4 linked regions of the Homo sapiens genome follow. The protein of the gene in region 4 purifies or fractionates together with the protein of the main gene of each other region. This does not show direct contact. Each region holds a gene or a part of one and is shown on either strand. Other genes may lie near its edges. The genes, in order: NDUFB8, CYB5B, OCIAD1 and MTCH2.

Region 1 (7,751 bases), on a different chromosome or scaffold from region 4:
GACCTTGCTTCCTTGAGCAGGAAAGCTTAGTGTTACTTGGTCAAAGAAGTGCCATCTGAGCTAAAGAATCGCCAAGAAGACAAAGAGAGAAGGAAGGTCAAATGAGATATGGTTCTCTTACCGGTTCACCCCAGTTCAACCTCAGGCCCGGCTGGTCCCAGCTATACCATGGATCTCTCTCATGCTGTGAGCGGTCAGGGAGCTTCGGGTAGTCGCCATACCTGAAAGACAGCAAGAACTTCTGGAAAGGGCTGTGAGCAGCCTCAGACAATTCAGAGTCTCCTCATCTTATAGATGAGAAACAAAGTGACAGAGATAACTGCCTCACCTAAGGACAAAGGAACTAAACCTCAAGGCAAGAGCTCAAGTTCTAGTCACTAAGCACAGAATTAACCATAGAAGTCCACACTGTATTTAAAAGTTCATGGCAAACTCTGAAATATTTTAATGTACATAAGCCTTCCCTGGGCCAGGTGTGGTGGCTCATGCCTATAATCCCAGCACTTTGAGAGGCTGAGGTGGGCAGATCACCTAAGGTCAGGAATTCAAGACCAGACTGGTCAACATGGTGAAACCCCACCTTTACTAAAAATACAAAAATTAGCTGGGTGTGGTGGCAGGTGCCTGTAATATCAGCTACTCAGGAGGCTGAGGCAGGAGAATCACTTGAACCCAAGAAGTGGAGGTTGCAGTGTGCCCAGATCGCACCATTGCACTCCAGCCTAGGCAACAAGAGTGAAACTGTCTGAAAAAAACAAAACAAAACAAAAAAACCCAGCTTCCCCAAACTTCTTTCAATAAAAAGAAAAAAAGTCACACAATCGTGTGATATTAGAGATGAAAGGGAATTTAGCAATCAATTACAGTCATGTGCCACATACCATTTCAGTCAATGACGGACAACATACACGAAGGGGGTCCCATAAGTTTATAATAAAGCTGCCCTATACATATGTACCATTTTTTATCTTTTTCTCTTTTTTGAGACGGAATCTTGCTCTTGTTGCCCAGACTGGAGGGCAATGGCACAATCTCAGCTTACTGCAACCTCCACCTCCCGGGTTCAAGCAATTCTCCCGCCTCAGCCTCCCAAGTAGCTGGGATTACAGGCACCTGCCATCACGCCCAGCTAATTTTTGTATTTTTAGCAGAGACAGGGTTTCGCCACGTTAGCCAGGCTGGTCTTGATCTCCTGACCTCGTGATCTGCCTGCCTTGGCCTCCCAAAGTGCTGGGATTACAGGCGTGAGCCACTGTGCCTGGCCCATTTTTTATCTTTTATAGCATACTTTTATGTACCTTTTCTATGTTTAGATACACAAATACCATTGTGTTACAATTTCCCACAGTATTAAGTATAGCAATATGCTGTACAGGTTTGTGGCCTCAGAGCAACAGGCCATACCATAAAGCCGAGGTGTGTAGCAGGCCATACCATCTAGGTTTCTGTAAGTACACTCCTAATGTTCATACAATGAGGAGATAACCTAACAACCCATTTCTCAGAATGTATCCCTGTTGTTAAGTGACATATGACTGTACTCTGATTCCCTCATTAGATAGAAAATGAAAAATTAAAGTTTAGAGTCTGAATCCAAAGTCACCCAGCTAATTGGAATAAAAACAAAAAGGGTACAGATTAGAAAAGCACTCTTCTCGTAATAACTGTGTTCTTGACCACCCAGTTGGCATTCATCTCTGCGTCTCAAACACCTCATGGGACCTCTTGCTAAGCTGGGTTTTCCCCAACAAATCCAGGTTCATCTGACACTGGCTTCGAACAAGGCTGCTCTTGTCCACAACATAAGAAAAAACAGGAAATGATGACAACTAGACATATGCTACAGAAAATGAGTGTATAACAAGAAGAATAGAAGTTGCTGAAACCAAGATTGAAAGAGTGACATTAGGACAGGAAATAAAGGCGATGATAATCACTTCAGATAATTAACCATTGGGATGTTATGTGGGTATGGATACGGAAGAGTGTGGAAGGGATAGGATAACATCAACTGGAGTACGTAAGGGGGCTGGCTGTTTAATCTGCTTAATAGTTGCTACGATTTCCACAGCACTAACAGAAAAACATTTTTTTTAAAGAGACATACACACAAATATAGAGTACTCCGTTTACAAATAAGATTCTCATGACAGGAGTCCAGCTCCAGCCTGGTCACATGCCTGGATGACAGCACCTGAGCGCAGCAGATGCTCAATCTAAATGAAACTCGACGCTCTGGATAGAGCCAAGGAAGGCTCCTGCTATTCGGGGGTCCTCGAGGGAGCCATTAAAACCTCGGCTTCCTCATTTGAGGAAACAGCCTGAGCCAAGGAGAAAATTGAAGTCCTCTCAGCTGCAGCTGCTCACCCACCCCCCTCCCACCTCCCTCCACAGAGAAAAGCACCCACTCCATTGACTCTGAGGGGTCACGAGAAGGTTCGGGAAAAAGGGTCACAGTCAAGCCACCCAACCCAGCCGGCCTTCTCCCATCACTACTTGGGTGCGAGCATACCCTCTCTGTCTCACCCCATGCCATCATCCGGGTAAGGTTCGTAGTCTTCCACACGCATATTATACTTCTTGGCGGCGGCGGCCCGTTCTTCTGGGGTCCTAGGATAGGGCCCCGGGAACATGTCCTTGGTCATGTGGGAGGCTAGAACGCAGAAGAGAACAGGTCAGAAGCGAGCCCGCTCTCCAGCCGCTCCGAAGGCTTCAAGTCGCAGGGGCTGCAGAGGTCCGAGCCCGGGACTTCGCAGGATCAGTGCGATCCTCCACCCCATTTTCTGGATATATCAACGCCACCTCCACTCCCTACCCGGAGGCTGCCGCCGCGGCATCTACGATCCCCCCTCCCGATACACCAAATTTCAGGTACCCCCTTCCCACACTGAGGTCTCGCCCGTTCTCGCGGACCTGTCCGTGCGCCCAGCGGCATCACGTTCCGGGATGCCCTTTGCAGCCACTGGACTCCCAAGACCCCGGCCCTGGCCACCGCCATCTTCACCTTCTTCACGTTTCCCTTCTGCACATGCGCAAAGGCCTGTCACGGCGGCTGAGCCGGGCCAAACGTGACGGAGGAAGCCGGGAGTGAAGAAAAGCCGAAGGGTTCAACAGGGGCGGGGTTTAAATACGCAGTTGGGAAGCCAAGGGTTGGATAGAGGCTGGGAAGGATAAGCGGGAAGAAGGGAAAACCAGGCAGGTCTCTGACATTTCAGAATGTTGTGTCCTTTTTCTCCCTGAGCTGACTTAGACCCATCCAGGGATGATGGGAACTCGGAACCTGAGCAACTCAGGTAGACAGCTTAACCACCTCCCCCAGGAGCTGTACTAGTGAAATGAGCCTGTCTTACTCTCTTCTCTGGCTGCTTGCTTTCCTCTCCTTCACGGGCACTTCCTTCCATCCCCAAACATGATCATTCTTCAAATTCACCTGTTGGTCTTGCTTGTTGTTCTGTTCTCCAAATGGGTTGATCTTCACTTAGACGCCAGTGCAACACACAATTCGGCCCTGAATTGGCTCCTTAGTTTCAGTCCGTGTTTCCATCTGCATGTCTCAGTCACCTCAACCCAACAAATGTAAAATTAAACTTATCACCAGAGGCAGCTCTCCAGAGACAGCTTAAAGCCTCAGAGTTGGTAGGACTTGGATAAAACAAATTACAAACCGGCCCATAATGAACAAACTAACTCAACAGAAGAATTGGAGACATTATTATGTTTGCATATGAATGTTTTCACTTGGGATTTGAATAACTTACACATTATAAATATGCACGTATTTCCAGTGACTTTTCAGGTGACCACTGTTTTGGAGCAGAACCTATTATTATAAACATTCTCAAGTATATATCAGAGCAATAAAAATGCATATAAGCTGGGAGCTGTGGCTCACACCTGTAATCCCAACACTTTGGGAGGCCTAGGTTGGAGAATGGCTGGAGACCAGGAGTTTGAGACCAGCCTGGGTGACATAGTGAGACTTCGTCTCTTTTTTTTTAAGTTATAAAAAGTAAACAAATATGGATATATACTATTTAATATATAAATTTTGGGAAGGACTACACAGCAACTTGCTGTCTTGTAAATGACATCACTAGTTGATGTTCAGAATAATTGCACAACATCTGCATTCAACCAATAGCAAACCCTGATCCAATTTAGGTCAAGAAACAGAGTTGATCTAATTTATTTATTTTTATTAAGATATTATTCACATACCATAAATTCACCCTTTTAGGCCGGGTGCGGTGGCTCACGCCTGTAATCCCAGCACTTTGGGAGGCTGAGGTGGGAAGATTACTTGAGGTTAGGAGTTCAAGACCAGCCTGGCCAACACAGCAAAAACCCATCTCTACTAAAAATACAAAAATAGCTGGGCATGGTGGTGTACACTTGTAATCCCAGCTACTCAGGAGGCTGAGGCAAGAGAATCACTTGAACACAGGAGATGGAGGTTGCAATGAGCCGAGATCACGCCACTGCACTCCAGCCTGGGTGACAGGGTGAGACTGTCTCAAAAACAAAAAACAAACAAACAAAAACAAAAACAAAAAAACCTTTTAAAGTGTACAGTAGTTATTTTTAGTACATTTACAAAGTTGTGCAATCATCATCACTATCTAAAACATTTTTATTGCTTCCGAAAAAACCCATACACATTAGCACGTTGCCCCTACCTCTACCCACTGGCAACCACTAATTTACTTTCTGTTTCTATGGATTTGCCTATTCAGACAGTTTATATAAATGGATCATGCAATATGTGGCCTTTTGTGTCCATTTTCTTTCACTTAGAATAATGTTTTCAAAGTTTGTCTGTGTTGTAGCACATATCAGTACTTCATTCCTTTTTGGGCTGTATAATATTCCATTATATGAATGTACAGTACAATATTTTATTTATACATTTATCAGTTAATGGACATTTGAGTTGTTTCTGCTTGTTTGGCTATTGTGAATAATGCTGCTGTGAACATTCTTGTATAAGTTTTTGTCTGGATGTATGCTTTCTATTCTTTTGGTTATATGCCTAGGAGTAGAATTGCTGGGTCATAGGGTAACTCTGTGGTTTAACTTTTGAAGAACTGCCAAATTGTTTTTCAAAGCAGCTGTGACATGTTACATCCCCATTAGCAGTGTGTGAGAGGGTTTCAGTTTCTCCACATCTTTATCAACACTTGTTATTGTCTCTTTTTAGTATCACCATGCAAGTGCCTGTGAATGGTACTTCATTGCAGTTTTCATTTGCAGTACCCTGATGACTAATAATGCTGAGCATCTTTCCATGTGCTTATTGGCCATGGTATACCTTCTTTGGAGGAATATCTGTTCAAACCCTTTGTTCATTTTTAAATTGGTTTGTCTTTTTATTGTTGAGTTGTAAGGATTCTTTATGTATTCTAGATACAATTCCCTGATCAGATACACAATTCATAAATATTTTCTCTGACTCTGTAGGTTTTTTTGCTTTTTTACAGTATCATTTGGAACCCTGTGTTTATCAGGAAGGGGTGTTGGGGTTTGTCAAAAGCTTTTTCTGTGTCTATTGAGATGATCATGTAGGGTTTTTTCTTTTACTAATATAGTGTATTATGTTGATTATAAATATTAATCAATAAAATATTGATTACTACATGGTGTGTTATATTGATCATTCTGAGATGTTGAACTGACCTTGCATTCCTGGAATAAATCCCACTTGGTCATAGTATATAATTCTTTTATATGGTGTTACACTGAGTTTGCTAGTATTCTGTTAGGATTTTTGCATCTATATTCATAAGAAATATTGGTCTATAGTTTTCTTTCTTTCTTTTTTTTTTTTTTTGAGACGGAGTATCGCTCTGTTGCCCAGGTTGGAGTGCAGTGGTGCAATCTCGGCTCACTGCAAGCTCCGCCTCCCAGGTTCACGCCATTCTCCTGCCTCAGCCTCCTGAGTAGCTGGGACTACAGGTACCCGCCACCATGCCCGGCTAATTTTTTTGTATTTTTAGTAGCGACAGGGTTTTACCGTTTTAGCCAGGATGGTCTCGGTCTCCTGACCTCGTGATTCACCCGCCGTGGCCTCCCAAAGTGCTGGGATTCCAGACATGAGCCACTGCACCCAGACCAGTGTTAATTTTTTAAAAAATGTTTGGTAGGATTCATCAGTAAATCTATCTGGTCTTGAGCTTTTCTTTTTCTTTTTCTTTTTTTTTTTTCCTGAGATGGAATCTTGCTCTGTTGCCCAGGCTGGAGTCAGTGGCACGATCTCAGCTCACTGCAACCTCCGCCTCCGGGATTCAAGCGATTCTCCTGCCTCAGCCTCCCAAGTAGCTGGGACTACAGGCGTGCACCACCATGCCTGGCTAATTTTTGTATTTTTGATAGCGATGGGGGTTTTACCATGTTGGCCAGGCTAGTCTCGAACTCCTGACCTCAGGTGGTCCCCCCGACCTCGGCCTCCCAAAGTTCTGAGATTACAGGCATGAGCCACTGTGCCCAGCCTTTTCTTTTCTTTTGAGACAAGGCCTAGCTCTGTCTCAAAAGGCTGGAGTGCAGTGGTGCAATCTCAGTTGACTGCAACCTCCACATTCCGGGCTCAAGTGATCCTCCCACTTCAGCTTCCCGAATAGCTGGAACTACAGGCGTGCCACCATGCCTGCTAATTTTTTTTTTTTTTTTTTTTTGGCTGGGGGGATTTGGTAGAGATGGGGTTTCTCCATGTTGCCCAGTCTGGTCGCGACCTTCTGGGCTCAAGTGATTCGCTTGCCTCTGCCTCCCAAAGTGTAGGGATTACAGATGTAAGCCACCATGCCCAGTTTCTGGGCTTTTCTTTATGGGATGTTTTTGATTCCTAATTCAATCTCTTGTTACAGGTCTATTCAGATTTTCCATTTCTTCTTGAATCAGCTATTATAGCTTGTGCCTTTCTAGGAATCTGTCCATTTCATCTAGGTTCTGTAATTTTTTGACATACAATTGTTTACAGTATGTCCTTATATGCTTTTTTTGGGGGGTAAAGTCAGCAGTAATATCCCTGTTTCATTACTGATTTTAGTTCTTTTAATCTTCTTGATCTTAATTAATTTATTTATTTTTAGTAAGACAGGATCTTGCTCTGTCATCCAGGCTGGAGTGCAGTGGCATGATCATGGCTCATTGCAGCCTGCACCTCCCAGGCTCAAACAATCCTCCTACCTCAGCCTCCCTAGTAGCTGGGACTACAGGCATGCATCAACGCACCGAGCTAATTTTTAAAATTTTTTGTAGAGATGAGGTCTTGCTATGTTGCCCAGGCTGATCTGGAACACCCAGGCTCAAGTAATCCTCCTGCCTCAGCCTTGAAAAGTCCTGGGATTACAGGCATGTGCCACCATGCCTGGCCTAATTTATTTTTAATTCCCAAGGTTATGAATTAATACATTCTTGTAAAAATTCAAACATTCAGCCTGAGCAACATGGCAAAACCCTTTCTCTACAGAAGGAAAAAAAATTAGTCCGGCATGGTGGTGTGTGCCTTTAGTCCCAGCTACTTGGGAGGCTATGGTAGGAGGATTGCTTGAGCTGGGGAGGTGGAGGTTGCAGTGAACCAAGATTGCATCACTGCACTCCAGCCTGGGTGACAGAGTGAGACCCTAGCTCAAAAAAAAAAAAAAAATTCAAACACTGCAGATAAAATGAAAGCCTTGATTGCCCCCTGCAGCCTCAAACACTTCCACAGAGGTAGCCCTATTATCGGTTTGGTGTAGCATGGTTACTATGTAGCATAA
Region 2 (7,025 bases), on a different chromosome or scaffold from region 4:
TCAGCCTCCCAAAGGGCTGGGATTACAGGCGTGAGCCACAGCACCTGGCCAACCACACACCCATTAGAATGGTTAAAAGTAAAATAACTGACAAATACAATGTATCAATGAAGATGTGAAGAAACTGGAAAACCTACATTGTGGTGGGAGTATAAAATTATATAAACACTTTGGAAAATGCTCTGGCAGTTGCTTAAAAAGTTAAACAGACATATAACCTAGTAATCTCACTCCTAGCAATTTTACTACTAGGTATTTGCCCAGGAGGAATAAAATCATATGTCCACACAAAGATTTGTACATGACAGTTCCTAGCAGTTTTATTCATAACAGCCCCAAACTGGAGACAACCCAAATGTCAATCAACAAGTGAATGGATAAACAAATTTTGGTATGTTCACACAATGAAATCATAAGTTACAAATCACTGATAACACAGAAAAAATAGATGAATCTCACAGATATACTGAGCAAAAGAAGCTAGACAGAAGAGTACGTACTATAGTGTTAGAAATAAAATGAGTGTGTATGGGGACAACACTGGTAGAAATGTTCTACAGTTATGTGCCACATAATATGGTCAACAATGGACCATATATATGATGGTGGTCCCATAAGATTATAATACCATATTTTTATTGCACCTTTTCTATGTTTAGATGCACAAATACTTGTTACTGTGTCACAACTGCCTACAGGTTTGTACAGGTTTATAGCCTAGGAACAAGAGACTATACCGTACAGCTAAGGTGTGTAGCAGGCTATACTACCTAGGTTTGTGTAAATATACTCTATGATGTTTGTGAAGGGGTAAAATCAACTAATGATGCAGTTCTCAGAATGCACCCTCATTGTGAAGTGACCCATGACCGTATATTGATTGTGATGGTGATTATACAGATGAGACATTTGTCAAAACTCACTGAACTCTACATTCAAAATCTGTACATTTTATTGTCCCTACATTTGATTTCAATTAAGTTGATTTAGAGAAAAAAATGTGACAGCAAAATATTGAAAAACCCAAATGTTTATCAATAGGATACTGCTTAAATAATGATCCATATAATAAATCCTATGCAGCTGTGGTGAAGGAGGAGGAGGGATGCCAGTTATTGCTATGGAAAGATCCCTGAGATACACAGTTAAGTGAAAAAGGCAAGACACAGATGAGTGTGCATAGTATGTTATCTTTTGTGTAAAAAAAGAGAAACTACATTCACTTTGGCTTGTACAGGCAAAAAGAAACTAGAGGGATACACAAACAATGGGAGTTAACTTTAGGAGGCAGTGAAACTGGGCAGAGGGGAAGGTGGCTTTTTACTATATACCTGTTTGACCTACTTAAAAAATGAAAAAAATTACCTAGGTTCCAGGAAAGGGGTATCTGTTCTAACTTCCCTATACCACATTCCCAATCCTTCCAAATTATATTTAAAATGTGAACAAAGCTATAAAACAGACCTAATTCCATACTCTGCAGCCATGAAAAACATTGAGGCAGATCCTAGGGTACGGTTAAGAGTACAGGCCACAGGCCGGGCATGGTGGCTCAGGCCTGTAATCCCAGCACTTTGGGAGGCTGAGGCAGGCGGATCACCTGAGGTCAGTAGTTTGAGACCAGCCCGGCCAACACGGCAAAACCCCGTCTCTATTAAAACTACAAAAATTAGCCAGATGTGGTGGCAGGTGCCTGTAATCCCAGCTACTCAGGAGGCTGAGGCAGGGAGAATCGCTTGAACCCGGGAGGTGGAAGTTGCAGTGGGCTGAGATCGCGCCATTGCACTCCAGCCTGGGTGATAGAACGAGACTCTGTCTCAAAAAAAAAAGGAGTACAGGCTATAGGGTCACAGTGCTTGATTTCAAATCTCACCTGTGCCACCTAACTTTATGACTCTGTGAAAGTTACTCCTCTGCTCCTGTTTTCTCACCTCTAAAACAGGTTGTTGGGAGGCTTAAAAGAGAAATTACATGTAAAGCACTTAGAATAATAAGCACTCAATAAATACTATGACGACTACGAGGGCAAATCAACTAATAGAATACTATGACTCTATTTCTGTATATATTTGTACATATTTGTATATATAAGTATATACATGTTTGCACATATAAGTATATGCACGGAAGATGTAGTATTCAAACAAATTATTGGGATTGAAAGAGTTTAGCCTACCCTAACTTAAATGTGTTCAGAACATTTACGTTAGCCTACAGTTGGGCAAAATCATCTAACATGAAGCCTATCTTACAATAAAGTGCTGACTATTTCATGTAATTTATTGAATACCATACTGAAAGTGAAAAACAGAATGCTTGTATGAGTACTCACATATCACTTTCACACCATGGTAAAGTCAAAAAATTTTAAGTCAAGCCCTAGTAAGTCAGGGACTGTCTGTAAATTGCTTCAATGTCATCCCTCATCTTCAAACATGTCAGTGGTTTTCTATTACCTTTTGGATCAAATCCAAACTACCTACCAGACCTTGCATGTCCTGGGTCCCGCCTAGCTCTCTGGCCATTCTTGTCCTTCATTCACTATAGACACAGCTTCTTTCAGTCCCACTAATGTGCCAAACTCTTGCTTGACTTCAAATGCTGCTGGAATGCTCTTTTCTGTATTCTTTCCAAATCAGGTTCATGACCATCAGCTCAATTAAATGTTATCTTCTCACAGAGGCTTTCCCAGATCACTCTTATTAAATTAAATCTTTCCTGATTTTTCTTTCTCAACTCATTTGTTTTCTTCATAAAAGTGCCATAATTTAAAATTATTTCATCTGTCTGTTTTTGTTTTGACTCCTCTAGAATGGTAGCTTCAAGAAGGCAGTATCATGGGATATTTTCGTTTTGTTTGTTTGGAGACAGGGTCTCGCTGTCACCCAGGCTGGAGTGCAGTAGTGCTATCTCGGCTCACTGCAGCCTCGATGTCCTGGCCTCAAGCCCTTCTCCCACCCCTGCCTCCTGAGGAGCTGGGACTACAGGCTCATGCCACCATGCTCGTCTAATTTTCGTATTTTTTGTAGAGATGGGGTTTTGCCATGTTGCCTAGGCTGGTCTCAAACTCCTGAGCTCAAGTGATCTGTCCACCTTGGCTTCCCAAAGTGCTGGGATTACAGGCGTGAGCCACTGCACCCAGCTTTGTTTTGTTTTTAAGACAGAATCTCACTCTGTCGCCCAGGCTGGGGTTCCATGTTTATGTTTATTTTTATACACCACCAGGGCCTACTACTATATAGAACTTAACAAATATTTGTTGGGTTAATAAAATGTTATCCCATTTATGAGATGGTTCCTAAAGTAATATTCTCATTTATGGTGACAGTTTCTAAAAACACATATAGGCCGGTGCCGTGGCTCACACCTGTAATCCCAGCACTTTGGGAGGCCAAGGTGGGCAGATCACTTGAGGTCAGGAGTTCGAGACCAGCCTACCTAACATGGTGAAACCCCATCTCATAAAAACTAGCCAGGTGTGGTGGGAGGGACCTGTAGTGCCAGCTACTCCAGAGGCTGAGGCAGGAAAATCGCTTGAACCCAGGAGGCAGAGGTTGCAGTGAGCCAAGGTAATGCTACTGCACTCCAGCCTGGGCGACAAAACAAGACTCCATCTCAAAATAAATAAATAAATAAATACACATATAAAGCTTTAAAATAGGGCTGGGCATGGTGGCTCACACCTGTAATCCCAGCACTTTGGGAGGCCGAGGCGGGTGAATCACCGGAGGTCAGGAGTTCAAGCCCAGCCTGGCCAACATGGCAAAACCCCATCTCTACTAAAATAGAAAAATTAGCCGGGCATGGTGGCATTCACCTGTAATCCCAGCTACTCAGGAGGCTGAAGCAGGAGAATCACTTGAACCTGGGAGGCAGAGGTTGCAGTGAGCTGAGACCATGCCATTGCACTGCAGCCTGGGCGACAAGAGTGAAACTCTGTCTCAAAAAAAAAAAAAAAAAGTTTTAAAATATCACAATGTTATTTCAAGTTACTCTTTTGACAAATGACTATTTATACACAAGTCAATGGCTTCCAAATTTTCACTTGTAATACCCAGTAAGGAAATAATTTTACACTGCAATCCAATAAACACCATATACATGAGATATTATAGGCCAGGCACAGTGGCTCATGCCTGTAATCCCAACATTTTGGGAGGCCAAGGCGGAAGGATCACTTGAGCCCGGAGTTTGAGGCCAGCCTGGGCAACATGATGAAACCCCATCTCTACAAAAAAAATACCAAAAAAATTAGCAGGGTGTGGTAGTACATACCTGTAGTCCCAGCTACCTGGGAGGCTGAGGCGGAGGATTGTTTGAGCCCAGGAGGCAGAGGCTGCAGTGAGCCAAGATGGCACCACTGCACTCAAGCCTGGACAACAGAGCCAGACTGTCTCCAAAAAAAAGAAAAAAAAATACATTATATATAACTGAACAAAGTTTCACAAAATTTTACCCTTGATAAGAGAGATGCACTTTGATATTTTCTATCAATGTCATAAGATATTACAATCATTTTTATGTGATTTTTCTAAACTACTAAATGGTGGAAAGATAATGACATGTACTACTTTCATTCATGATTTCAACAACTCATGAATGCACTGATTCAAACAATGCAAAATTAATCTGCCAGGGAAAGACAATTCAATTATATTACTAATTCTAAACTACCACATTCAAACTCCAGTATCATACTCTAACCAGTCATTAATCAAAAAAATGGTAAGCTACAGACACAGGACACTTAAGATTAGGAACCTCTTGCTAAAGGAGGGGCCCCAAAGTGACATCAGATTGGAAAGAGAAGGATGAATACCAATGTAAATCTTCCCTCTCTCATCTAATAGCAACCCAACTCTTGAAGACTCATAAGCCAAAAACTTTGGTGTTATCCTTGACTCATTTTTCTTTCATTCCCCAAATCTGGCGCATCATTAAATCCTATTGGCTCTTCCATCACAACACATCCAAAATCTGACACTTGTTCTGGTACAACCCACTATCTCTTGCCTAATTACTAAAACAGCCTCCTAACTGGTCTCCTCAATTCTGCCCTTGTCCTCTTAAGAAGGCAAAGCCAGCTGGACTTCCTGGGTGGAGTGGGGACTTGGCAAACTTTTGTGTCTAGCTAGAGGATTGTAAATGCACCAATCAGTATGCTGTAAAAATGCACCAATCAGCACTCTGTGTCTAGCTAAAGGATTGTAAATGCACCAATCAGCACTCTGTAAAAATGGACCAATCGGCACTCTGTAAAATGGACCAATCAGCAGGATGTGGGCGGGGACAAATAAGGGAATAAAAGCTGGCCACCCCAGCCAGCAGCATCAACCTGCTCTGGTCCCTTTCCACACTGTGGAAACTTTGTTCTTTCACTCTTCACAATAAATCTTGCTGCTACTCACTCTTTGGGTCTGTGCCACCTTTAAGAGCTATAACACTCACCGCGAAGGTCTATGGCTTCATTCTTCAAGTCAGAGAGACCAAAAACCCACCGGAAGGAACCAACTCCAGACACACTCTTCCTTCAGTCTTTCACAACAATGTAGTCAGAACGATCCTATTACGCCATTAAGTCACATCATGTCACTCTTCTGCTCCAATGATTTCCCATCTCAGAATAAAAGCCAAAGTCCTTCCTAAAACCTGTGAAGTTGTACATGATTTGTCCTCCCCTGATCATTCTGATCTCATGTGCAACTATTCAACCACTGTGGCCTCCCTGACTGTTCCTCAAACATACCAGACATCCTCCCATCTCAAGGCCTTTGAACTTGTTTCCTCTGCCAGGAATGCTCTATGCTCTTCCTACAGATACCCTCATGGCTAGCTCCTTTACTTTGCTCCTGGCCTTTACTTAGTCATCTTCATAAAGTTATCTCGGCACCATCGCTAAAATTTCAAACCCTCCTCCTCACACCACATAAATATTCCACAGTCCTCTTCCCTGTATTATTTTTCTTTTTTTTTTCATTTGTGACGGAGTCTCACTCTATCACCAGACTGGAGTTCAGTGCCACAATCTTGGATCGCTGCAACCTCCAACTTCTGGGTTCAAGTGATTCTCCTGCCTCAGCCTCCCAAGTAGATGAGAGTACAGGCACATGCCACCATGCCCAGCTAATTTTTGTATTTTTAGTAGAGATGGGGTTTCACCATGTTGGCCAGGATGGTCTCAATCCCGACCTCATGATCCATCCGCCTCGGCCTCCCAAAGTGCTGGGATTACAGGCCTAAGCCACCGTGTCCAGCCCCCTGTATTATTTTTCTTCTTAGCACTTACCACTACCTAATGTAGTATATATTTTAGTTATTTACTCTGCTTATCGTCTGCCTCCTGTGCCATGTAATCTCCATGAGGGCATAGCTGTTTATTCACTACTAAATCCCCAGCACCTAGAACAGTGTCTAGAACATAGTAAAGGCTTAATAAATATTTGAATAAGTGAATGAATGAATAGGCTTGGAATGAACAAGAAAACAGAATAAATAAGAATAGCTAATTAGGCTGAGCACAGTGGCTCACACCTGTAATCTCAGCACTTTGGGAGGCCCAGGCAGGAGGATCCCTTGAGCCCAGGAGTTCCAGACCACACTGGGCAATAGTGGGACCCCAATTCTTTTTTTTTTTTTTTTTGAGACAGAGTCTGACTGTCGCCCAGGCTGGAGTGCAACGGCACCATCTTGGCTCACTGCAACCTCCACCTCCCGGGTTCAAGCGATTCTCCTGCCTCAGCCTCCTGAGTAGCTGGGATTACGGGTGTGTGCCACCACGCCCAGCTAATTTTTTTGTATTTTTAGTAGAGACGAGGTTTCACCATTTTGGTCAGGCTGGTCTGGAACTCCTTACCTCATGATCTGCCCACCTTCGCCTCGCAAAGTGCTGGGATTACAGGTATGAGCCCACACCCAGCCAGTGGGACCCCAATTCTACAAAAAATTTTAAAAATTAGCCAGGCGTCGTGGTGCACACCTTTTCCCAGCTATTCGGGAGGTTGAAATAGAAGGATCACTTGACCCCA
Region 3 (7,025 bases), on a different chromosome or scaffold from region 4:
CTATAAAATGGTGTAGTATTTACATATAACCAATGCACATCCTCCTATATACTTTAAGTCATTTATAGATTACTTGTAATGCCTAATGTAAATGCTATGTAAATAGTTATTACAATGTATTGTTTGGGAATAACAAGAGTTCAGTACAGACAACCATCCATTTCTCTCCCTCAAATATTTTCAATCTGCAGTTGATTGAATCTGCAGATACGGAACCCACAGATACGAAGGGTCACTGTACACCAATTTTTCTTTTTAACATAATATCAGTCTCTGTGATGTATACCAAATTTTTATTGTTTTAGAATTTACAAATTCTTTAAAAATGCTTTTTAAGGCATTTACCTATTTACTATATTATCAATTTATCTACATAAATCACATTCATTATATTTTTATTTTTTTAGACACAGGGTCTCACTCAGTCGCACAGGCTGGAGTTCAGTGGTGTGACCACAGCTCACTGCAACCCAGAACCACTGGGTTCAACTGATCCTCCCAACTCAGCCTCTTAAGTAACTAGGACTACAGGCACACGACACCATCGCCAGCTAATTTTTATTTTTTTGTAAAGACAGGGTCTCGCTTTGTTGCCCAGGCTGGTCTCAAACTCCTGGACTCATGCAATCCTCCCACTTCGGCCTCCCAAAGTGCTGGGATTACAGGCATGAACCACTGCCCACTGCCTCCAGCCATATTATAGATTTATAGCCATATTATAGCCATATTATAGAAATATTATAGATGACTTTATTTCCTATACCTACATGATTATAACTAGCTTAAAAATAAATCAATAAATTACAAACAATAAAACCATAAAATCAAGGAAGATGAGGGCTGTTGCATGTTCCTTTACATTTTATTTGCCATAAACATTAAGATAATACAGAAAATACTGGAGAAAAAAAGCTTTTTAATAATTTCTTGATGCAAAGCTTCACACTTAAAAATTATGCTTGCTCCCCCCATCCACCCCAATTCAACATGCAGATATCATTTATTTTCTTATATGCTGATTCTAGAGCATTGTAATCTCGACGGTTTTTTAAGAGTTATCTTTGCCCTTGCAACAATTTCACAAACTGTATACAATCATGGTATAATACCATCATTCAAATGAATCCCTAAGGTGAGTACATTTACACAATATTAACACTAAAAATCTGTGTTTTTTTAAAACACCATAGAAGTCAAACCACAAAAACCCAGGATCTTGTTTTAAATGTGTTTATGAAGACTGCTGCTGAGCTCAAAGCATGCAGGTAATCATGACCACCTAGATGAAGCTGGATGTTGAAACTCCTTCATGTCCAATGATGTAATTTTTCACTCATCCCAAGTATCTCCATACTTGTTTACTTTGACTAGGAAAAAAGCATAAATAATTGATGATTCCAAGCAATAATAAGTAAAAGACATTATTTTAAGTTTGTTGCTATGATGAAAAGTTATGTTTCTCTCTCATTTGAATAAAAGCACATGAGAGTCAAATTATAATTACAAAAAGGGGATGACCAGACTTTTGTGAACTTGGGGTTGGACAAATGCATTGTATCTAGAATTTTACATAAATAGTTAGTCCTCATAACAAACTTCTAAACACAATTCTCATTTTAATGGTGAGAAAAAAGATTAGTAACTTGCCCAAGGTACAAGCCCTAACAAGAACTGAGATTTGAGTATAGGTCTGTTTAGATCCAAAGCCTAGGTACCTTTACATCTTTACCATACTACCTAAGTGTGGCACATATTAAGCCATATACAAAAAAAAAAAAAAATAGTGGGAAATAATAAAACAAACATTTGAATTTTCGTTTTTCACAAAAAATACAGCAGTAGAAATGGTCAAGTGTTCAAGTTGTAATTAATTCAATCTTCTCTCTCAGGGCTGTAAATACTACTATAAGAAGAAAATACTACTACATTTTACAGGTACTCTATATTTTACATTTTAAAACATGCTCCGCTGTCTATTCTACTCCTTTACTTTTTTGCTTCTCTTCCACATAGCTTCTGTCTGTGAGTAATCATAACAATATAAAGCAGCAGTTATCACAGTGTGGACTCTTCAGGGAATACATGAAGTCAAAATTATTTCATTATTATACTAAGACATTATATATCCTTATGTTTCACATTTTGCCTTTTCCCCTTGCTCTCATTCCCTCATGAGTATATGTTACATGGTTTTCTAGAAGCTACAGGATGTGTGGTGACATTGCTCTGGCAGCTAATGGAATATGTGCTTGAATTTTTTAAATTTCTGGGTCTTAATTTCTAATTAGATAAATATCAACCACATAAGCTAAAGGTGAAAACTTTAAGTGACACTTTCTGACCATGTGAATCTACCCTGTACTAATTTCAACAATAATTCAGAAAATGACTGAAACTATTTCATAACAAGTCTTTTCTTTAAATTATATAAAGCACACAAAAAACCAGCTTTTCCCAAAAAAAGAAAAAATCATTTCACATTCTTGTGTCATGTAACAGAACTTGAAGACTTCAGTCAAAAATCAAAAATGTCAAAATCCAGCAAATGTTAAAGGTCTACCAAATTTCCTTTCTTAACCTCTATTACCATAGAAGCCTAAACCAAAATACTCAATTTCTGATACAGTGTAAAGTACTATGCTATGCAGACAATAATAGAAAAGATTACAAAAATGAGAAAAATATTACTTTCTGCCCTCACAGAGCTTACAATCTAAATCCTCAAATTAATTAGCAGGACAAAGTACCGACAAGTCTTTACATATTACAGAGCAATGGCCACTAGATGCAGTTTATGCTAAATGTTGTTTGATGACAAACATTCAAAAGTATGGTACATCCCTAATTCATTTCAAAGGTAGATTTTTTTTACATCAATAATATGATGCAGATATTATCTATCATTGTTATAAAAACAGAACTCCAAACGAAGCAACCGCTAATGATTAAAAATAAAATTAGCTCTAAAAAATGACCATAACAACAAATACTAAGGACTTTCATGTATTTTTGCATTCTTTGTGGCATATGACCTTCAAGAAGGTACCAAAGACCTATTATTTCCATTTTTAAAGTAGTAAATAGAAAATCTTGAAACAATGACACATACTCTGAAATTCCTTAAGAGAAAATCATAAAACCCTATACTGAAATAGCTATAAAACCCTATTCGAATGTCCTCTTCCTTTAGAGGTAAACTTGTATCAAAAAATTTACTTTGGCTAATGTATAGCTATTCCAAAAAGACTTAAAAGAAACCAGGATTTAAAAATTCATCTTTAAGAAATGCCTTAGAAGCTGGCATATAACTCTTTCAAATTCACAAATGTACAAGAAAGGTCAGGCACAGTGGCTCCCACCTATAATCCCAGCATTCTGGGAGGCCAAGGTGAAAGGACTGGTTGAGCCCAGGAGTTTGAGACCAGCCTTGGCAACATAGGGAAAAACCCACTGCACCAAAAAAAATTTTTAACAGCCAGGGATGGTGGCATACAACTGTAGTCCCAGCTACTCAGGAAGCTGAGGTAGGAGGACTGCTTGAACCCAGGAGGTCAAGACTGCAGTAAGCCATGATTACACCACTGCACTCCAGCCTGGGTGACAGAATAAAACCATCTCAAAAAGAAAAAACAAACAAACAGAACAAAAAAACACGAGAAAAACCCAAATGTACAAGAAAATCAATCTCATTACTCAATCATTCTGTGGTTAGGCCACAAGTGGTATTACAGCGCAACGCCAACCTCAGGTCACTACAGCAACTTATGCGATAGATGTATCATTAGGAAAATAAGACTATCAGATCTCCAAGGAGATTTGTTGTAAGAGAGAAACAGTCAAATGAGTATGTCTCTACCCTGTGTTAAACTAATCTTGCTGTCTTAAGACTTACTATTTGGACTTCACTATTTTCTTCCTTTTTTTGGCGGGGGGAGGGGGGAACAGAGCCTCGCTCCGTCATCCAGGCTGCAGTGCAGTGGCGTGATGTCGGTTCACTGCAACCTCTGCCTCCTGGGTTCATGCAGTTCTCCTGCCTCAGCCTCCCGAGTAGCTAGGATTACAGGCATGCACCACCATGCCCAGCTGATTTTTGTATTTTTAGTAGAGACAAGGTATCGCCATGTTGGCCATGCTGGTCTCCAATTCCTGGCCTCAAGTGATACACCCAGCTTGGTCTCCCAAAGTGCTGGGATTTCAGGCATGAGACACCACACCTGGCCTTGACTTCATTATTTTCTAACACAAAATGGCCTTTGGAACACCTTAAAAATGGAAAACTGGCCGGACACGGTGGCTCAAGCCTGTAATCCTAGCACTCTCAGAGACTGAGGCAGGCGGATCACAAGGTCAAAAGATCGAGACCATCCTGGCCAACATGATGAAACCCCATCTCTACTAAAAATACAAAAAATTAGCTGGGCGTGGGGGCCTGTAGTCCTAGCTATTTGGGAGGCTGAGGCAGGAGGATTGCTTGAATCCAGGAGGCAGAGGCTGCAGTGAGCCAAGATCGTGCCACTGCACTCCAGCCTGGCGACGGAGCAAGACTCCGTCTCAAAAAAAAAAAAAGAACTGATAACTGTAAAGTACTATTTTAAAAATATTTTACTTTGGTTAATTGCTTGAAGAGTTAAATCACATATTAATTAATTTTTTATAGTATTGTTTTAAAGTAATGTTTTAGTTTCCAATCCTCAACAGTAAAGTGATTCAGACTAAACTATCATACCTTCTTTTTTTGGCACTCTTTCATGCATAGGCCTGACTGAGGGGTCAGTCTTTTGTGTTAAAGATACTTCATATGACTCTCTGTTCTTATTCCTTAATTCCTCATATGTAATATTTTTTCTTTTAGGACTTTCTTCAAGGTTGGGATCAGGTCCTAAAACAACAAACAGTTAATAAATGGTAATAAAAGGATTTGTATAACTCTAAAGCAACTAAATTTTACAAATGCTCCTTACAAAAGGAGCTACAATCAAAATAGAATAAAGAATCAAATTATTACCACCATTTCACAGGTACTATACTTTCACCAAGATAATCATCAAACTGAAATCTACTTCCACCCATATTTTTAAGCTTTTATTTCTAAAAATTAAAATGGACATCAAAAATTTTAAAAACTAAACCACAGCCAGAAGAAAAATATGTATCATAATATATAACAGTACAATTTAAACTCATTAAAATACCAGTGTTTTAAACTGGAGTTACTCATACTGTATACAGAATTAAAAGAGAAATATATTCTACTAGGGACAACTGAATAAAACTTGACATAGCATAGATTTTACTCAATATATAGTTAAATAGTCCTATAACCACAGACTCTATGAAAACAACTCCAGCTATTTTCAAAAATCATTTATTTTACCTTTTTACAAAATTTAAACAAAAATACTGAAAATAGGCCAGGCACAATGGCTCACAACTATAATCCCAGCACTTTGGAAGGCCGAGGCGGGCGGATCACCTGAGGTCAGGAGTTCAAGACCAGCCTGGCCAACAAGAAACCTCATCTCTACTAAAAACACAAAATTAGTTGGGCGTGGTGGCACACACCTGTAATCCTAACTACTAAGGAGGCTGAGGCAGAATCGCTTGAACCCAGGAGGCGGAGGTTGCAGTGAGCTGAGATCGCGCCATTGCACTCCAGCCTGGGCAACAAGAGCAAAACTCTGTCTCAAAAAAAAAGGAAAAAAAGTTGAAAATAATTACTTGAAAAGTATAAAACATAGCCTTTAATCAGAATATGTGTTGTTTTCATTCCAGTCTAACAGATGCAATGTTGATGCAGAAGAAAGTATCAACTGTTATTTTGGCCTGGGAACTAACATTTATTCTTTATTTCTCCCAAAGAGAGTCAAAATGTGAATATTACATATTATCATAGAGTCAAATGTAAATATAATGCAGTGGTTACTCCTAATATTGGTTGACAGGATCAAATAGTGAACATAGTTTATACAATTTATAAACAGCAAAAAAGGCCATATGAACATTAAAAAAAAAAGATGCTAACATTCAGTGAACAACTACTTAACTTACAAAGTCTTACCTACCACATACCACACCAAAAGTACTGTTTTTCAAAGATGTTTTCAATAAGACATACAAATTGGGCATATACTTTTAATATTAACTTTTTAAAAAATAATTTTTGTGATACTTATTTAGAACTCAAAGGTAGGATCCCAGTGAATAATCAGAATTTTCTAAGCAACATAACTATACATTAAATAATGTTTTCAACCATAAACTTTTTTTTTTTTTTTTGAGACAGAGTCTCACTCTGTTACCCAGGCTGGAGCACAGGGGCACAATCTCGACTCACTGAAACCTCCCCCTGCCAGGTTCCAGTGATTGTCCTGCCTGAGCCTCCCAAGTAGCTGGGATTATAGGCATGTGCCACTATGCCCAGCTAATTTTGCATTTTTAGTAGAGACAGGGTTTCGCCATATTGGTCAGGCTGGTCTTGAACTCTGACCTCAGGTGATCCACCCGCCTCGGCCTCCCAAAGTGCTGGGATTACAGGCATGAGCCACTGCACCCAGCCATTTTCAACCATAAACATTTATTCTGCTAAATAAATATATACTATACTTATATAAAGCAAAGAGGATTTAAATTTCTCCTAATTAGTTCTAGTATTATATGATGGTTCAAAACTACATTTTTCTTACTAAAAAAAGAATGTAAAGAAAAATATTATAACCTTATATTGGGATTAAAACACTTTGCATTTCATTAGTAATAAGTAATTACTGAACTCATTTCCCTTCACCATATATGTTATATTAAAAATTCTGAAGGAAATCGTGTGTACTTCAGGAACCTTGGGTTCTTAACCCCACTCTGCTGACAATTAGGAAATGTCCTTGGGCAAATCACTAAGCTTCTTTGAATCCTGGTTTTCTCAATTGCGAAATATGGTAGTTTGAGCAGATGATCTCTGAAGTTCCTTCCAGGTCTAATACTTTTTCTTATAAAAAATATTTTACCATTATAAAATTCTGGAACAAATA
Region 4 (7,025 bases):
CTGTAGCTTCAGGAAAATACAACTTTTTTTCCCTTCTGGTTAAGTAAAATAAGAATTTGGAGCAAAAATATCCTAATTCAGAATAACTAAAGGGGGAGTATCAGTGGTAAGTTATGTTGTGCTGGAAAAAAGAACAAAAAAGGCAGACACCAAACACCTGAATTTTCCCAAGATTAAATGATTATTAAAAAAGCGCGCCACACTGTATAGAAATCAACATTCTCTCCCATAATTCTGTGCATCTGGGACTACAGAAATGTCACTGTCCCTGCCCCACATCTTCAAATTAACATTTTCAGGTCACAACAATAAGTCTTCCCAAAGGGGACCTTCCGGAAAAATAAGCTATTTCCTCGGCTCATATTCCCCTGGAAAACAAAACAAAACAAAACACAAATAATATCTAGCGAGATGAGATCAGCCAATCCAAATCAGCAGAGAGGTCCAATTGGGAGACGTGACTAAATCTAGGACAAAACTGGGACTATCACTACAGAACAAGGATTAGTATTCTCTGAAAGGCTGAGCTACTATGAACTAACTACAATTTCTCCTTATTAAGTTCTTACTCTGGGCAGACAGAACGCCCAGGTTGGATTCTGGCTTTGCCACTTTCCAGCTGGCTTAGCAAATGAGTCATGTAGAACAGTGCCTAACATTCAGTAAGTGCTAGCTTTCATTTATTTCTTTGTTTTTCTTTTTTGAGATGGAGTCTCGCTCTGTTGCCCAGGCTGTAGTGCAGTGGTGCAATCTCGGCTCACTGCAACCTCTGCCTCCCAGGTTCAAGCGATTCTCCTGCCTCAGCCTCCTAAGTAGCTGGGAAAGGAACGCGCCACCGTGCCTGGCTAATTTTTGTACTTTTAGTGGAGGTGGGGTTTCACCATATTGGCCAGGCTGGTCTCAAACTCCTGACCTCAAGTGATCCGCCTATCTTGGCCTCCCAAAAGTGCAGGGATTACGGGTGTGATCCACCATACCCGGCCTATTTATTTCTTAATGAAATGAAATCATGTTTCTAAGGACTACTTATAAAATCTTATAATCAAAGTAATAACAACCTGGACAACATAGTAAGACCCCATCTCTACAAGAAATTAAAAAATTAAAGGCCGGGTGTGATGGTTCACACCGGTAATCCTAGCACTTTGAGAGACCAAGGCAGGAGGATCACTTGAGCTCAGGAATTTGAGACCAGCCTGCACAACATGGCAAAACCCCGTTGCTACAAAAAATACAAAAAATTGGGCAGACATGGTGGCTCACGCCTGTAATCTCAGCACTTTGGGAGGCTGAGGCAGGCAGATCACCTGAGGTCAGGAGTTCGAGACCAGCCTGACTAACATAGTGAAACCCCATCTCTACTAAAAATACAAAAATTAGCCGGGCGTAGTGGCGGACACCTGTAATCCCAGCTACTCAGGAGGCTGAGGCAGGGGAATTGCTTGAACCTGGGAGGTGAAGGTTGCAGTGAGCCAAGATCGTGCTATTGCACTCTAGCCTGGATGACAGAGCAAGCCTCCGTCTCAAACAAAACAAAACAAAACAAAACAAAAAAACAAACAAACAAAAAACAAAAAACAGGGGTGAGGGGGGAGGGATAGCATTAGGAGATATACCTAATGCTAAATGATGAGTTAATGGGTGCAGCACACCAACACGGCACATGTATACATATGTAACAAACCTGCACGTTGTGCACATGTACCCTAAAACTTAAAAGTATAATAATAATAAAATTAAAAAAAACAAAAAACAAAAAACAAAAAAATGAGCTGGGCTTAGCGGTATGTGCCTGTAGTCCAAGCTACCTGGGATGCTGAGGTGGGACGATCACTTGAGCCAGAGACCTCAGCCAGGAGGCAGAGGTTGCAGTGAGCCAATACCATGCCACTGCACTCCAGCCTGGGTGACAGAGTGAGACCCTGTCTCAAAAACAAAACAAAACAAAAAAATTAACAGGACATGGTGGAAGCATGCCTGTAGTCCTAGCTACTTGGGAGGCTGAGGTAGGAGGATTGCTTTACCCCAGGAGTTTGAGGCTACAGTGAGTTGTGATGCCACCACTGCACACCAGCCTGGGCGACAGAGCTTGTCTCTAAAAAATAAAGAACCAAATAAGTAAATAAAAATAAAGTAATAATGTTCTGAGTGCAACTGAGTACACTCTGGAGTATAAATCTGAGCCTTCCCAAATATAGGCCATGTGACCTTGCATTATGTAATTGGCACTAAACTGCTCTAAGCCCCAGTTTCTTCATATGTGAAATGGGTGATTAAGAATGACACCTATTCTCACACAGCTGTTTTGAGGATTACATGAGCTGATGTAAGAAAAGCTCTTAGCATGATATCTGGTATACAGTAAATGCCCAATCAAGATTTGCTGTTGTTGTAAGCACCTACAGGAACAACTGTTCCTACTTTAAGTGTGTTTGACACCGTAATCCATTCTCTGTCTGCTTTCTTCCTATAACAGAGTGTTAGTCAGAAAAGGAAGGAAGGAAAGGCCATTTTTTCCATTTAAACAGGGACCACACTGTACAATAGAGAGTAAAACTCAGAATGAAATGCACAATGTTCATAGTAGGTCTGTACTGAAATCATTCAAGTATTCAAGCTTGGATTCACAGAGGGGCTTTGTGGGCACACTAAGCAAGAGCAACTACAAACAACACTTAGGCCTTTTCATTCAGATTTCAAAGGCCTTTCTCTTATATATCACTAGTGCTATAAAATAATGCAACAAAGAGCTTCTTTATACGCTTTCTTCTACAATCTTTTAAGAAGTGGACCCCCCTTCAAAAACAGCTTTAAACTGATAATCATTTTAAGTGATCCTGTGCTAAATTTAGCCCACAGCCAATCCATTTGTTGTTGTTATTGTCTTTTTTTTTTTTTTGAGATGGAGTCTTGCTCTGTCACCCAGGCTGGAGTGCAGTGGCACAATCTTGGCTCACTGCAACCTCCACCTCCTGGGTTAAAGCAATTCTCTTCCCTCAGCCTCCCCAGTAGCTGGGACTACAGGCACACGCTGCTACGCCCAGCTAATTTCTTTTGTATTTTAGTAGAGATGGGGTTTCACTGCGTTGCCCAGGCTGGTCTCAAACTCCTGACCTCAAGTGATCTGCCCGCCTTGGCCTCCCAAAGTGCTGGGATTACACCTGTGAGCCACTGCACCTGGCCTGTAGTTTTTTGTTAAGAGACACGTCTGGCTGTGTTGCCCAGGCTGGCCTCAAACTCCTGGACTCATGTGATCCTCCTGGCTCAGCCTCCTGAGTAACTGGAACTATAGGCATGAGCCACCATACCTAGCCGTTATTTTATTTTCCTTTTTTGGATACAGGGTCTCACTCTGTCACCCAGGCTGAAGTGCGGTGATGCAATCTTGGCTCACTGCAGCCTTGACCTCCTGGGCTCAGGTGATCCTCCCACCTTAGCCTCCTGGGTAGCTGGGACTATAGGTGCTATGCCTGGCTAAGTTTTTGTATTTTCTGTAGCAATGAGGTCTCATCATGTTGCCTCAACTGGTCTCAAACTCCTAGGCTCAAGCAATTTGCCCACCTAGACCTCTCGAAGTGCTAGAATTATAAGCGTGAGCCACTGCACCCAGCCCATTATTTTATTTTCCAATAAAGCTTTGCCTAGATAATAAATAATTTTTTGTTGCAGATTATACACCTCATAGTAATAACAAACCCTAAATTGGTATCTAGGCAAAATCATCCACTAACAAGACTCTAGAAGTATAAGACCAGCTCTGTCAATACCACTGTGACAAATAAGTGGTTATGAAAGGTGAGTTTGGGGGAAAAAAAGAGTCTAAAATCAAGGCCATCATTTTACCAGGATAATAATCTACCTGGATCGTATTTGTAAGTTGAATGTGGGCACTCAAATGGCTTCTAGGTCTCATCTAGGGATTCTTTCTTCTTCATTACTCCTGCTCATGATTTCTAAACATCACATTTTACTATTATGCCAAAGTGAAAACACAGAACACTGTAAAGTGTACATTAACTGGCAGACTAGACTAACTCTAGCTAAAGTGAGCTACAAGAGTTAACTTGGGATTCCAGAGACAATATTTAAGAAAACAAATAAATAAAAATAAAACAAAATAAAATGAGAGAGACAGAGAAAAAGAAATACCTCTTTTTGTAGCATGCACCAACAGTCTATCCAAGACGTATATATTGGGGAGTAAGGAGGGCATCCACCAGCAAGACTAAAATAGAAAAAAACATGGAGCTATTCATGTTAATATTAACCATTCTCTTGAGACGTTGATAAACCTTGTCAAAATATTCTGCTGCACAGAAGATTCCCTGAGAGATCATTTTAGTTCAATGAAACAAATCATATTGAAGCAGGGGAACGATCAAGCATCCAAAAGAGAATTCCTCCCCTATATTTAGGTTTCAAATAAATAAATAAACATAAACTTCAACCTTAATTTCTAAAACATTTAGACTTTTCCTTTGTGGACAAATGAAACTCCAGAACACAGCATTTACATGATTAAAGAGCAGGGAAAGGTGGCCGGGCACGGTGGCTCACACCTGTAATTCCAGCACTTTGGGAGGCCAAGGCAGGTGGATCATTTGAGGTCAGGAGTTCAAGACCAGCCTGGCCAACATGGTGAAACCCCATCTCTACTGAAAATACAAAAACATGAGCTGGCATGGTGGCGCATGCCTGTAATCCCGGCTACTTGGGAGGCTAAGGCATGTGAATTGCTTCAACCCAGGAGGCGGAAGTTGCAGTGAGCCAAGATTGCACTACTGCACTCCAGCCTGGGTGACAGAGTAAGAACCAGTCTTTTTTTAAAAAAAAAAAAAAAAAAAAAGAGCAGGGAAAGGAGATTTAAAAACTAACTGGTGTTCACAAAGATACTAAACATGAAAACGGATATAAACAGTAGATATATATGTTCCTACTTAGGTATAATCACTTCATCTTGAAAAAACTGTAAATAATAATAATACATTTAATTCATCCTTCAAGTTTACACTGTGCTAAAAAATGGCAGTTGCTCTACGTATCAGAAAACATCACAGCTTGCCAGGAGTAACATGAAACAAACAAAACCAGAAAACAAACAATGTAAAATGTTCAAAACTCCACATAGCTATCTGATCTTATTTGAAAACAGTAACATGTTTAATGATATGTCAGGTACCATATGGGAAAAGAATTTTGAATTAAACAAAAAAGGCAAGGCTGGGTGCAGTGGCTCACGCCTGTAATCCCAGCACTTTAGGAGGTCGAGGAGGGTGGACCACTTGAGGTCAGGAGTTCGAGACCAGCCTGGCCAACATGGTGAAACACTGTCTCTACTAGAAATACAGAAATTAGCCGGGGGTGGTGGCAAGTGCCTATAATCCCAGCTACTCTGGAGGCTGAGGCAGGAGAAGTACTTGAACCCAGGAGGTGGAGGATGCAGTGAACCAAGATCGCGCCACCACAATCCAGCCTGAGCAACAGAGCAAGACTCTGTCTCAACAATAACAACAACAAAAAAATACAAAAAATTAGCCAGGCATGCTGGTGGGCACCTGTAATCCCAGCTACTCAGGAGGCTGAGGCAGGAGAATTGCTTGAACCTGGGAGGTGGAGGTTGCAGTGAGTCGAGATTGCACCACTGCACTATAGCCTGGGCAACAGAGTGAGACTCCATCTCAAAAAAAAAAAAAAAAAGGCAAAATTTTGCCCAACTCAGTAGAGTCACTTGGCATCTAGAATTTGGAAATCAATGGAGTCTACCACTATACCAAAACCTGCCCTTCTAACCAATACAGAGAAAAGGTCATCAAACTTTCCATAGACTAAATATCCTAATTCTGGTTCTTTAAAACTCACTTTCTCCATAAAGCCCCTAGGAAAAACAGGTATGGATTGTCATTTAATCCCTGATATACCTTTTGTCACTTTCATAGAAAAGATAAAGATTTAAAATAACAATATGTTGGCTGGGCATGGTGGCTCACCCCTGTAATCCCAGCACTTTAAGAGGCTGAGGAAGGAGAATCACTTGAGCCTAGAAATTTAAGAACAGCCTGGGCAACAAAGTGAGACCCTGTGTCTTCACAAAAAATAATTAGCCAGGCATGGTGGCATGCACATGTACTCCCAACTACTTGGGAAGCTGAGATGGGAGGATCCCTTGAGCTCAGGAGTTCAAGGCTGCAGTGAGCTAGGACTTCACCACCACATTGCAGCCCTATCTCTAAAAAAATTAAAAATAAATAAAAATAGGCCAGGTGCAGTGGCTCACGCCTTTAATTCCAGCGCTTTGGAAGTCCGAGGTAGGCAGATCACCGGAGGTCAGGAGTTCAGGACCAGTCTGGCCAACATAGCAAGACCCCATCTCTACTAAAAATGCAAAAATTAGCCCAGCATGGTGGCACATGCCTGTAATCACAACTTCTTGGGAAGCTGAGGCATGAGAACTGCTTGAATCCAGGAGGTGTCTGTTGCAATGGAGCGAGACTGCACCACTGCACTCCAGCCTGGGTGACAGAGTGAGATTCTGTCTCAAAAAACAAAAACAAAAACAAAAACAAAAACTATAAATAATAATAGTAATTGGCCTGGCATGGTGGTTCATGCCTGTAATCCCAGCACTTTGGGAGACTGAGGCGGGTGGATCACTTGAGGTCAGGAGTTCGAGACCAGCCTGGCCAACATGGTGAAACCCTGTCTCTACCAAAAATACAAAAATATTAGCTGGGCATGGTGGCGAATGCCTGTAATCCCAGCTACTCAGGAGGCTGAGGCGGGACAATCACTTGAATCCAGGAGGTGGAGGTCGCAGTGAGCCGAGATCATGCTACTGCACTCCAGCCTGGGCAACATAGCAAGACTCCATCTCAAAAAAAAAAAAAATAATAATAATAATTAATAAATAAATACAAATTGAGGCTGCTGCTGCATAGGGCATACAAAGAAAAAAATTAGGAATCTTCTAATGGTATCAATTATACTTTTCCTCCCCCCCTTTTTAAAAAAATACCAATCAGAGATTG

Evidence for each region.
Region 1: the proteins of MTCH2 (region 4) and NDUFB8 fractionate together in Homo sapiens (co-fractionation; 2 studies listed by BioGRID). This does not show direct contact.
Region 2: the proteins of MTCH2 (region 4) and CYB5B purify together in Homo sapiens (affinity purification with mass spectrometry; 2 studies listed by BioGRID and IntAct, with this or other methods). This does not show direct contact.
Region 3: the proteins of MTCH2 (region 4) and OCIAD1 purify together in Homo sapiens (affinity purification with mass spectrometry; 3 studies listed by BioGRID and IntAct, with this or other methods). This does not show direct contact.

What each region holds. Positions count from the first base shown.
Region 1 is NC_000010.11:100,526,854-100,534,604, forward strand, and holds the start of NDUFB8 (NADH dehydrogenase [ubiquinone] 1 beta subcomplex subunit 8, mitochondrial isoform 1 precursor), read right to left. Parts: upstream 3,019-7,751; 5' UTR 2,999-3,018; coding exon 2,914-2,998; intron 2,654-2,913; coding exon 2,527-2,653; intron 222-2,526; coding exon 122-221; intron 1-121. UniProt on the Homo sapiens protein: Accessory subunit of the mitochondrial membrane respiratory chain NADH dehydrogenase (Complex I), that is believed not to be involved in catalysis. Complex I functions in the transfer of electrons from NADH to the respiratory chain.
Region 2 is NC_000016.10:69,427,609-69,434,633, reverse strand, and holds part of CYB5B (cytochrome b5 type B), read right to left. Parts: intron 1-7,025. UniProt on the Homo sapiens protein: Cytochrome b5 is a membrane-bound hemoprotein functioning as an electron carrier for several membrane-bound oxygenases.
Region 3 is NC_000004.12:48,855,067-48,862,091, reverse strand, and holds the end of OCIAD1 (OCIA domain-containing protein 1), read right to left. Parts: intron 4,880-7,025; coding exon 4,727-4,879; intron 1,936-4,726; exon of another isoform or gene 1,889-1,935; intron 1,368-1,888; coding exon 1,330-1,367; 3' UTR 277-1,329; downstream 1-276. UniProt on the Homo sapiens protein: Maintains stem cell potency. Increases STAT3 phosphorylation and controls ERK phosphorylation. May act as a scaffold, increasing STAT3 recruitment onto endosomes. Involved in integrin-mediated cancer cell adhesion and colony formation in ovarian cancer.
Region 4 is NC_000011.10:47,618,552-47,625,576, forward strand, and holds part of MTCH2 (mitochondrial carrier homolog 2), read right to left. Parts: intron 4,226-7,025; coding exon 4,150-4,225; intron 369-4,149; coding exon 282-368; coding exon of another isoform or gene 249-281; 3' UTR 1-248. UniProt on the Homo sapiens protein: Protein insertase that mediates insertion of transmembrane proteins into the mitochondrial outer membrane. Catalyzes insertion of proteins with alpha-helical transmembrane regions, such as signal-anchored, tail-anchored and multi-pass membrane proteins.